2 separate regions of the Homo sapiens genome follow, and region 2 is linked to region 1. A link means that fine-mapping ties the variant in region 1 to the expression of a gene that starts in the linked region. Tissue or cell type: pancreas. Region 1 holds a variant in brackets; the other region holds the start of a gene. All regions are shown on one strand. Distances are from middle to middle.

Region 1 (4,387 bases):
AATGAAGAATCTTACAAAGCCTTAGAACAATCAGTTCCACCAAAAACTACACATTATTTAACGCTGTATCATCAGAAAACTGCATCCACAACTTTTAGAAAATAAAGTTAATATTTGGAAGTCACAAGGTTGGTAAGTGGCAGTGTCACCGTCTGGTCCCGATTTCAAGTCGGACAGTCCCTCCCCAACACCGCCTAGGAAGTTATTAAAACGACCGGAAAAGAATTCCATAATCCGTTTCTTAACTTGCAAAGAAACAAAGCTATCTTTCCAATTCAAACAAAACGTTAACACCGCTGGCCAGATATAAAGAAAAACAACGGGCCGGGCACGGTGGCTCACGCCTGTAATCCCAACACTTTGGGAGGCCGAGGTGGCAGGATTACTTGAAGCCAGGAGTTCGAGACCAGCCTGGCCAACATAGACCGCGTTTCCACAAAAATAAAAAAAAAGAATAAAACAAAGAAAAACAACGATAAATAAACTTAACAGCTTTAAAGAAAAGCCACGACCACAGAAGGTTTACAACGAGTCATCTGCGCCAAGCAGCGGCACCTGAGACGCTGCGGGCGGGGAGGGTGGGGTCCGAGCGCCAGCGCTGACCGCCTGGGTGGAGGCCGCCCCGGGCCCCGGGCCTCGACTACCCTGCCGCGTCCGGGCACCGGCGCTCGGCTCCCACCCGGGCGTCTGAGCCTGCGGGCACCTGCGGCCGCCGGCGGACAGCGCGTCAGGTCTCACCGCCGCGGCCCTCGCACTGGCTCGCCGCCTCCAGACCCTGCCCCTCAGCGCCCCCGGCCTCCCTCGGCGCCGACTGCCGTGACGATCTAGGCCCGGGACCCCGCACGGGTCCCGCACCCCTGAACAGGCCCCGCAGCCGAAACGAGCGTCGCTCCCTCCCGCGTCCCCTCGATTTCCCCGCAACCCGCACCTTCTCCTCATGGCGGACGCTCCAAGCAGCCGTGAGTCCAGGTCCAGACCTACTCCACACGGCCCCGAGAGCAACAACCACCCGCAAACACCGGCGATGTCACTCCGCGTAGCCGCTCCGCGAGCCGTTGAGCCCCGCAAAATTTCAAACCGCGCCACGGGGCGAAGCCTCGTCGCGATTGGCGTCGCGTCCCGTCGCTCCAAGAAAATCCCCGCCCCTCGGGCTGAAGTCGCGGGTGCGCAATCGGGGTGGGGACTCGCGAGCAGGGCCTGGGAAGCGCCGGAGTGGCGGCGGGGGATGACGTCACTGTCTGTGAGTGGCCGGGCGTGGCCTGCGCCTCCCGCTTCCCTGGCTTGGCGGCAGCCTCAAGGGACTCCTCTCCCAAGCCAGCTACCTCATCGGAGCGCCGCCCCGCCTCGCCCCGCGCAGTTTGGATTCGAAGTGCGCGGGCGGGGAGGGAGTTGAGAGCACCGCGGCTACCTGGCTTCCCTGAGTCCCGGCTGCCGGGAACGGGCGCGGGGGTGAATAGGTAAGTTAGCGCCTAGTTTCCCTCGCTCATCCAAGAAGCGAAGCTTGGAATCGATCTTTGGTGGGACTCTTCCCCAGATGTAAGAAGCCATACACTAAAGGGGAAGGGAAGGAACATTGAGTCCTGCTCATGGGCCTGGAACGTTTCAACGCCAGTTATCCCATTTAACCTCCACAATCGCCATTGCAGAGGAAACGCAAAAAGATTTGAATGATTTGCCTAAGTCACGTTATCAAATTAGATGAGTTTCTAAATCGTTACATGAAAAATTTAAAACTCAAAATAGACATTACTTTTGTAGCCTCCTTTCCTCGATGAACATGTTACATCCCTAAATGCTTATATATCACCGTTTTTTCCCAGTGAT[TCATGGTGG/T]CATGGTGGCATGAATCCTGGTGTGTAGATATCTCGCCCATTCTGCTATTGATATTTAGATGATAATTTAAAAGATAAGGCTGGGCTGAATATCTTCATACATAAATCTTTGTGTATGTATGTATTTATAAATGCATCCTGCATTTTCGTACGGCTGATTCCTAGAGGTGTAATTACTGAATGCTCCCTTTATTAATTTGCCTTCTGCACAAAGCCTCACCGGAAAAGTACCCTCCTTTTGTTACCCTCAGCAGGGCTGAATTCTATTGTACTTCTAAACATCTTTGCTCATTTTGTAGGTAAAATAATAATACTGGCATTTCCTTGTTTGGCACTTGATTATAATTGAAATTGCACATTTTTCGTGTTTATTGGCCAACTGTAACTTAAGTGAATCCTCTTCATATGCCTTTTCCCTAAAGGTAAAGGATGCTTGTTTGCTTCACCTTCAGAACCATATTTTTCTTATTTTCAGAAAAACTTCATTAGTGCTTTCAATGTTCTTTTTACTTTTTTTAATTGAGACGGAGTCTCGCTCTGTCACCCAGGCTGTAGTGCAGTGGCCCAATCTCAGCTCACTGCAACCTCCGCTACCTGGGTTCAAGCAATTCTTGTGCCTCAGCTTCCCGAGTAGCTGGGACTACAGGCACGCACCACCATGCCTGGATACTTTTTTTTTTTGTATTTTTAATAGAGACGGGGTTTTGCCATGTTGGCCAGGCTGGTCTTGAACTCCTGACCTCAGGTGATCCGCCTGCCTCGGCCTCCCAAAGTGTTGGGATTACAGGCGTGAGCCAACGCGCCCGGCTTCCATGTTCTTTTTAACTTGTCAGCAGCATGCCAAACATTCACAGCACCAACACAGTGGGCGACAGGCACCACTTTTTCAATTTCCTTGCACTCTGTGATTAACATTGACACCACTAATAGAGTAGATGGTAGCACTACTTTTAAAATTTACTTGCATTCTTTGTTGATTAAATTAACAGGAGAGCTTTTCAGAAAGCTTCACAAATTTGTGATCTTCATACTTGTTCTTAGCACCAGCATTATGAAGTATCCAAAGAAAAGGCAATTTTTTCTCTCTTGTCCTTTACACTGAGGTGCTGAGGCTAACAAAGTCATAGAACTGATGCAAAGATATCCATTCAGAGCATAAACGCAGCATGTAAAACACTGTGTAATACGCGTTTATAATATATGACCTTAGCCTGGGCACTGTGGCAAAACCCTGTCTCTATAAAAAATACAAAAATTAGCCAGGTGTGGTGGTATGAGCCTGTAGTTCCAGCTACTTGGGAGGCTGAGGTGGGAGGATCACTTGAGCCCAGGAGGTCAAGGCTGCAGTGAGGCATGGTCACGCCACTGCACTCCAGCCTAGACGACAAAGCAAGACCCTTTCTCAAAAAAAAAAAAAAAAAAAAAAAAAAATCCTATTACAGGGTCATATATTTCTACTGGATGGAAGTGCAATGTTTTGCCACTGTTTAATCTTTTTCTGATGCCACCTATTCTTTCTGTGAATTAACAGCCCTGTTGGCAGTGTCTTTGGTCTTGCACACTAGCTTGACATAACACTCAAAATTCTAGCTAGATGCTTGAGGAATGCCTTTTCCTTGGAATATATTCTTATACAGAATTATCATTATTCTTATTTATTTATTTATTTTTTGAGACAGAGTCTTGCTCTGTTGCCCAGGCTGGAGTCCAGTGGCATGATCTCGGTTCACTGCAGCCTCTGCCTCCTGGGTTCAAGCGATTCTCCCACCTCAGCCTCATGAGTAGCTGGGACTACAGGTGCGCGCCTCCACAGCTGGCTAATTTTTATATTTTAGTAGAGACAGAGTTTCACCATGCTGGCCAAGCTGGTCTCAAACTCCTGACCTCAAGTGATTTGCCTGCCTCGGCCTCCCAAAGTGCTAGGATTACAGGTGTGAGCCACCGTGCGGGGCCCAGAATGATCATTATTCTATAGGAAGAATACTTTTGATGATCCAGTAACTCAGGTTTTGATTTTCTTTCTTCCTTTTAGTAAGTGGCAGCACTGTGGAATGGGGAACAGATGGAAGAATGAGCAGCTGGGAGGCACACTCTTGCAAAAACCCAGGCAAGAGACAATAAAGACCTCTGTCGTAGGGATGGTGAGGAGAAGATGAACTAGAGACATTTAGAAATAAGAACCAATAGCACAAGGGAACCAGCTGAAGGTGGGGCATAGAAAGAAAAAATCTGAGGTCAAGAATACAATTTTTTGCTCATTTGAACAAAGTTTGGGAATACAGGAAGAAGAGCAGATTAAAGGATTCAAGTAGGGACAGGAGCTTCCACTCATGAGTTTATTTTGTACATGCTGAGTTTGAAGTGCCTGTGGAATGACCAGGTAGGAAATACTTGTGTGGCGCTAAGGAGTGAGATGAAGGCTTGAGATCTGGAAGTGGATGACAACAAAGGACAGAGAGAGGGGAGATGTCAGCAAATGGGATGAGCAGAGAGGAGTAATCAAAGAACAACCTAAGAGACTGTGGGAGGACAAAGAAAGGGTATTATGGAAGCTG
Region 2 (4,193 bases), 27 kb after region 1:
TCAGTTAAGTATCAGGGTGAAGGAGAGGCAAAGATGATTCTGATATTTCAAGCTGAATAGCAGTGCACATTAACAAAAATTAAGTCAGAAGTTAGTTAGGAGAGGACGTTATTGCCTGGAAATCCACTTTGGCCATGCTGAATCACCCAGTGGGCTCAAGTTTCTCTTCTTGGTCTCCTCTACTTGATCTCACCTGAACTAGTGGCTTTAACTAGCACCTCTTTTAAATTCTTCAGACATTGTTGCAAGTCTTTTATGTGCATGTCACTGTGCAAGCACTAAGTATTAAAGAGAAAGAAGCCGGGAGTGGTAGCTCAAGCCTATAATCCCAGCACTTTGGGAGGCTGGGACGGGCAGATTACCTGAGGTCAGGAGTTTGAGACCAGCCTGGCCAACATGGTGAAACCCTATCTCTACTAAAAATACAAACATTAGCCAGGTGGGCTAGCGTGCGCCTGTAATCCCAACTACTGGGGAGGCTGAGGCAGAAGAATCGCCTGAACCCGGGAGGTGGAGGTTGCAGTTAGCCAAGATCGCGCCACTGCACTCCAGCCTGGGCAACGGAGTGAGACTGTGTCTCAAAAAAATAAATAAAATAAAATAGAAATAAAATCTGGTCTAAGATGCCCTGCAGTTCTCATCTTGATCCATCTTCCTTCCAGTCCTCACAATGCAGCTGCAGTTCTACATTTCTATCTGCTGGATGTTACAAGCTATATTTCTTACGGGCATCTTAACTTCCCCCATCCAAACCCAAACAAATCAACTTCCCCCATCAAACCTGTTCCTTTTTCTAATTATTTTTCTCATTTCTATTCAATGTTAATACAACAAATATTTATTAAGCACATGGTGTGTGCTTGACTCTAAGCTAGGTACTCACTAGGTAGTGTTGAACAAAACAAACATGATCCCTGCCCACCTTCCAGTCTAATGAGGAATACAGACATAAAATGAATAACTAAATGATTACACAAGTAATCCATTAAAATCACAGTGGCAGTATTATTTTCCTAATAACCCAGGTTAAAAATCTCACTCATTTTTGCTTCTCCTTCAACATTTATAACCAATCAGTAAGTCTTTGAGTTTTCTTTCACCATAACTTAAAAATCCATCACTTTCCTTCATTCCCACTGCTACCAATTTTGTGTGGGCCTTTATTTCTTGTCTGATCTACGGTCTCCTAACTGGCCTTCTTGTTGCCCATTTACGCCACCACACACATCACTATTAGAATCATCAAGTATTGTCTCATGCCACAAATGGAAAAAAAATTTTTTTCAGTGGCTACTGTGTAACTGCTGATGGGTGTCTTCCCTTACATGCCTTGTCTTTCCCTGGTTTGCCAACTTTGCTCCTACCAATCTATCTGCCTGGAGCATGCTTAGTCTCCAAAGAAAATATGCTTATTACTCACACTCACTTCCTTGAAGCTCCTAGATCATCACCCCAACTAGAAATGATCACTTACTGTGAACTCTTCGGGTACACTAGCTCTATCACTCATTTACCACCTGTGTGTGATAATTTGTGCTTCATACAGCTCCTACTGGAGTGGTAAGATCCCTAATGGCAAAGATGTCTTAACCATCTTTCCGTCCCTAGGGATGCCTGGCACTAATGGTGTCTCCCTTGCCTGTATGCGGGGTTGGGGGGTGATTTCCATTAACTCTCTGGCCAGGTTCCAAACAGCTCTTACTACTCCCTGGATTCATTCTGGACCTGCTGGGGAAGCGCCAAGGACAATACCAGGGGCCAAGAACAAGATCAAAGGGGCACGGCAAGGAAGAAATGTGCATCCAATGAGTGCTAAACTGTAGATGCGATAAAGGCGTCAGGCAAGCACTGACCTGCTCCAGCAGATAGATGAGCTGGTCTCGAGCCAGCCTCTTCAGCATGGAGAAGTCAGGCAGCTCAGGGGCGTCCGGCCGATGGGGAAAAGCCATGGCAGCGGTCACCTGCGCCGCGGGGTGGAAGGACGCCCTTCGTTCTGAGAAGGCCGGCCGCAGCCCAGGGAAGCGCAAGGGGGGCTATCCTTCAGGCCTGGGCACCGACTTCCAGAGACCCCAGATGGGCCCTCGCTCCTCAGCAGCACTCCAGGAATGAATGGCCACCTCCAGGCAAGAGAGCTACTACCTCGGAGCAGCCTTGTCTCAGACCTGCAGCCACCGTGTCTCGACCCTCCCTCCCTGATCCACTCTGCCCGTCAGCAGGATTCCGGTCTACACCCCGCAGAGACTCCGCAGCGTACGAGGAGAACCCCGCCTTCTACCAGAAAAAGAAGCGACTTCCTAGATCTCCCGGAAGTCCCTTTCGCTCCCAGCGCTTCGCGTACCAGGAAGGGGACGGCGTCCTGAAAGGGACATTTGAAAAACGGAGGCAACGCGTCTATTAATTAGGTGGCGGCGCCTGGGGTCGCAGCACTCCAGAGGCTGAGGTGGGAGAATCGCTCGAGTCAGGGAGGCGGAGGTTGCAGTGAACTGCGATCGCGCTACTGCACCCCAGCCTGGGCAACAAAGCTAGACCTTGCCTCAAAAAAAAAAAAAAAAAAAAAAAAAAAGACATAATGAATGCATCAGGCTAGCTAACAATACCTCAACTCTGATCAATCATACCATCATATCATTTCCTGGTGAGATGCATAGGAAATACAGAGCATCACCTATTGCCAAAAATTGAACCTAATCAAGCCTCAAGATCTAACTACCAGTTTATAGGCTATATAGAGATTAGCAGGAATATGTTAAGACACCAAAGGTATGAAATCAACCATATCCAAAATGTAGGAAATTATATGGGACAAATGATCTGTCGTCTTCAAAAAAATGGCAAAGTGGGAAATGTGGGAGGGGAAAACACTTCAGAATAAAAGAGATTTAAGAGATGTATCAACAAAATGTTTCAATGTGTGGATCTTTTTTGGATAATAATTCAAAGATAACTGATTTAAGGAATTACTAAAACTTTTCGGGTATTGTATTTCTTTTCTTCTCTTTTTTTTCCTGACAGAGTCTCGCCCTTTTGCCTAGTGGAGGAGCTCGGCTCACTGCAAGCTCCGCGCCACAACCCCCCTGCCGCCCCAGGTTCAAGAGATTCTCCTGCCTCAGTCTCCCGAGTAGACTGGGATTACAGGCGAGTGCCACCATGCCCGGCTAATTTTTGTATTTTTGGTAGAGACGGGGTTTCATTATGTTGGCCAGGCTGATCTCGAACTCCTGACCTCAAGTGATCCGCCTGCCTTGGCCTCCCAAAGTGCTGGGATTACAGGCGTGAGCCACAACGTTGGGCCAGGTATTGTATTTCTATGTTATTATTATTTTTTGTATTTCTATGTCATACAGGCTTGTATTTCTGTTAAAAACAAGTCCTTATCTCTTTGAGATACATACTGAAGTTTTTACAGGTGAAATAATTTGGCCAGGAGTAATGGTTCATGTCTCTAATTCCCACCACTTTGGGAGGTCCAGGTCGGGGTCGGGGGGTTGCTTGAGGCCAGGAGTTTGAGATAAGATTGGTCAACTACAACACATAAAAAATAGCCAGGCATGGTGGTGGGCACCTTTAATCTCGATACTTGGGAGGCTGAGGCAGGAGGATCACTTGAGCCCAGGAGTTTGAGGCTGCAGTGCGCTACGATCATGCTACAGCACCCCAGCCTGGGCAACAGAGTGAGACACCGTTTGTTTTTTCTTTTCTTTTTTTTTTTTTGAGACAAGGTCTGGCTTTATCTATCACCCAGGCTGGAGTGCAGTGATATGTTCTGTCTCTTTTTTTTTTGAGATGGAGTTTCGCTCTTGTTGCTCAGGCTGGAGTGCAATGGCACGATCTCAGCTCACTGCAACCTCCACCTCCCAGGTTCAAGCGTTTCTCCTGCTGCAGCCTCCTGAGTAGCTGGGATTACAGGCATGTGCCACGCACCCAGCTAATTTTGTATTTTTAGTAGAGACAGAGTTTCTCCATGTTGGTCAGGCTGGTCTTGAACTCCTGACCTCAGGTGATCTTCCCGCCTCAGTCTCCCAAAATGCTGGGATTGTAGGCATGAGCCGCCATGCCTGGCCCGATCTGTCTCTTAAAAAATAAAAAAAAAAACTAAAATATGTTTGGGATTTGCTTTAAAATAACCCAGGGGGAGATGTAGGAACATTCAGGAAAAAGATTGGGCCAGGCACGGTGGCTCACGCCTGTGAACC

Direction of the effects. Alleles are on the strand shown, and positions count from the first base shown. SD is a standard deviation of normalised expression in the study named.
With allele TCATGGTGG in place of T in region 1, the expression in pancreas of the gene that starts at base 2,294 in region 2 is lower (large effect, 1.7 SD a copy in GTEx).

What was found. PIP is the estimated chance that this variant, and not a neighbour inherited with it, causes the effect.
Region 2: VPS33B starts here. The variant in region 1 is fine-mapped to the expression of VPS33B in pancreas (GTEx, PIP above 0.99).

The regions. Positions count from the first base shown.
Region 1 is chr15:90,993,479-90,997,865 of GRCh38, forward strand. PRC1 (protein regulator of cytokinesis 1) reads right to left here and starts at 1,057. Exons shown (of 15, transcript NM_003981.4): 1 at 929-1,057. The coding sequence starts at 939. It overlaps LOC124903556 (a long non-coding RNA gene), which reads left to right and starts at 1,301. Exons shown (of 2, transcript XR_007064759.1): 1 at 1,301-1,457; 2 at 3,865-4,147. RefSeq lists enhancers at 363-1,230, 1,231-2,097 and a silencer at 594-813. The variant TCATGGTGG/T (reference allele first, on the strand shown) is at 1,825.
Region 2 is chr15:91,020,301-91,024,493 of GRCh38, forward strand. It overlaps VPS33B (VPS33B late endosome and lysosome associated), which reads right to left and starts at 2,294. Exons shown (of 23, transcript NM_018668.5): 1 at 1,854-2,294. The coding sequence starts at 1,949. VPS33B-DT (VPS33B divergent transcript) reads left to right here and starts at 2,322. Exons shown (of 4, transcript NR_110104.1): 1 at 2,322-2,440; 2 at 3,013-3,671. RefSeq lists enhancers at 1,378-1,994, 1,849-2,258.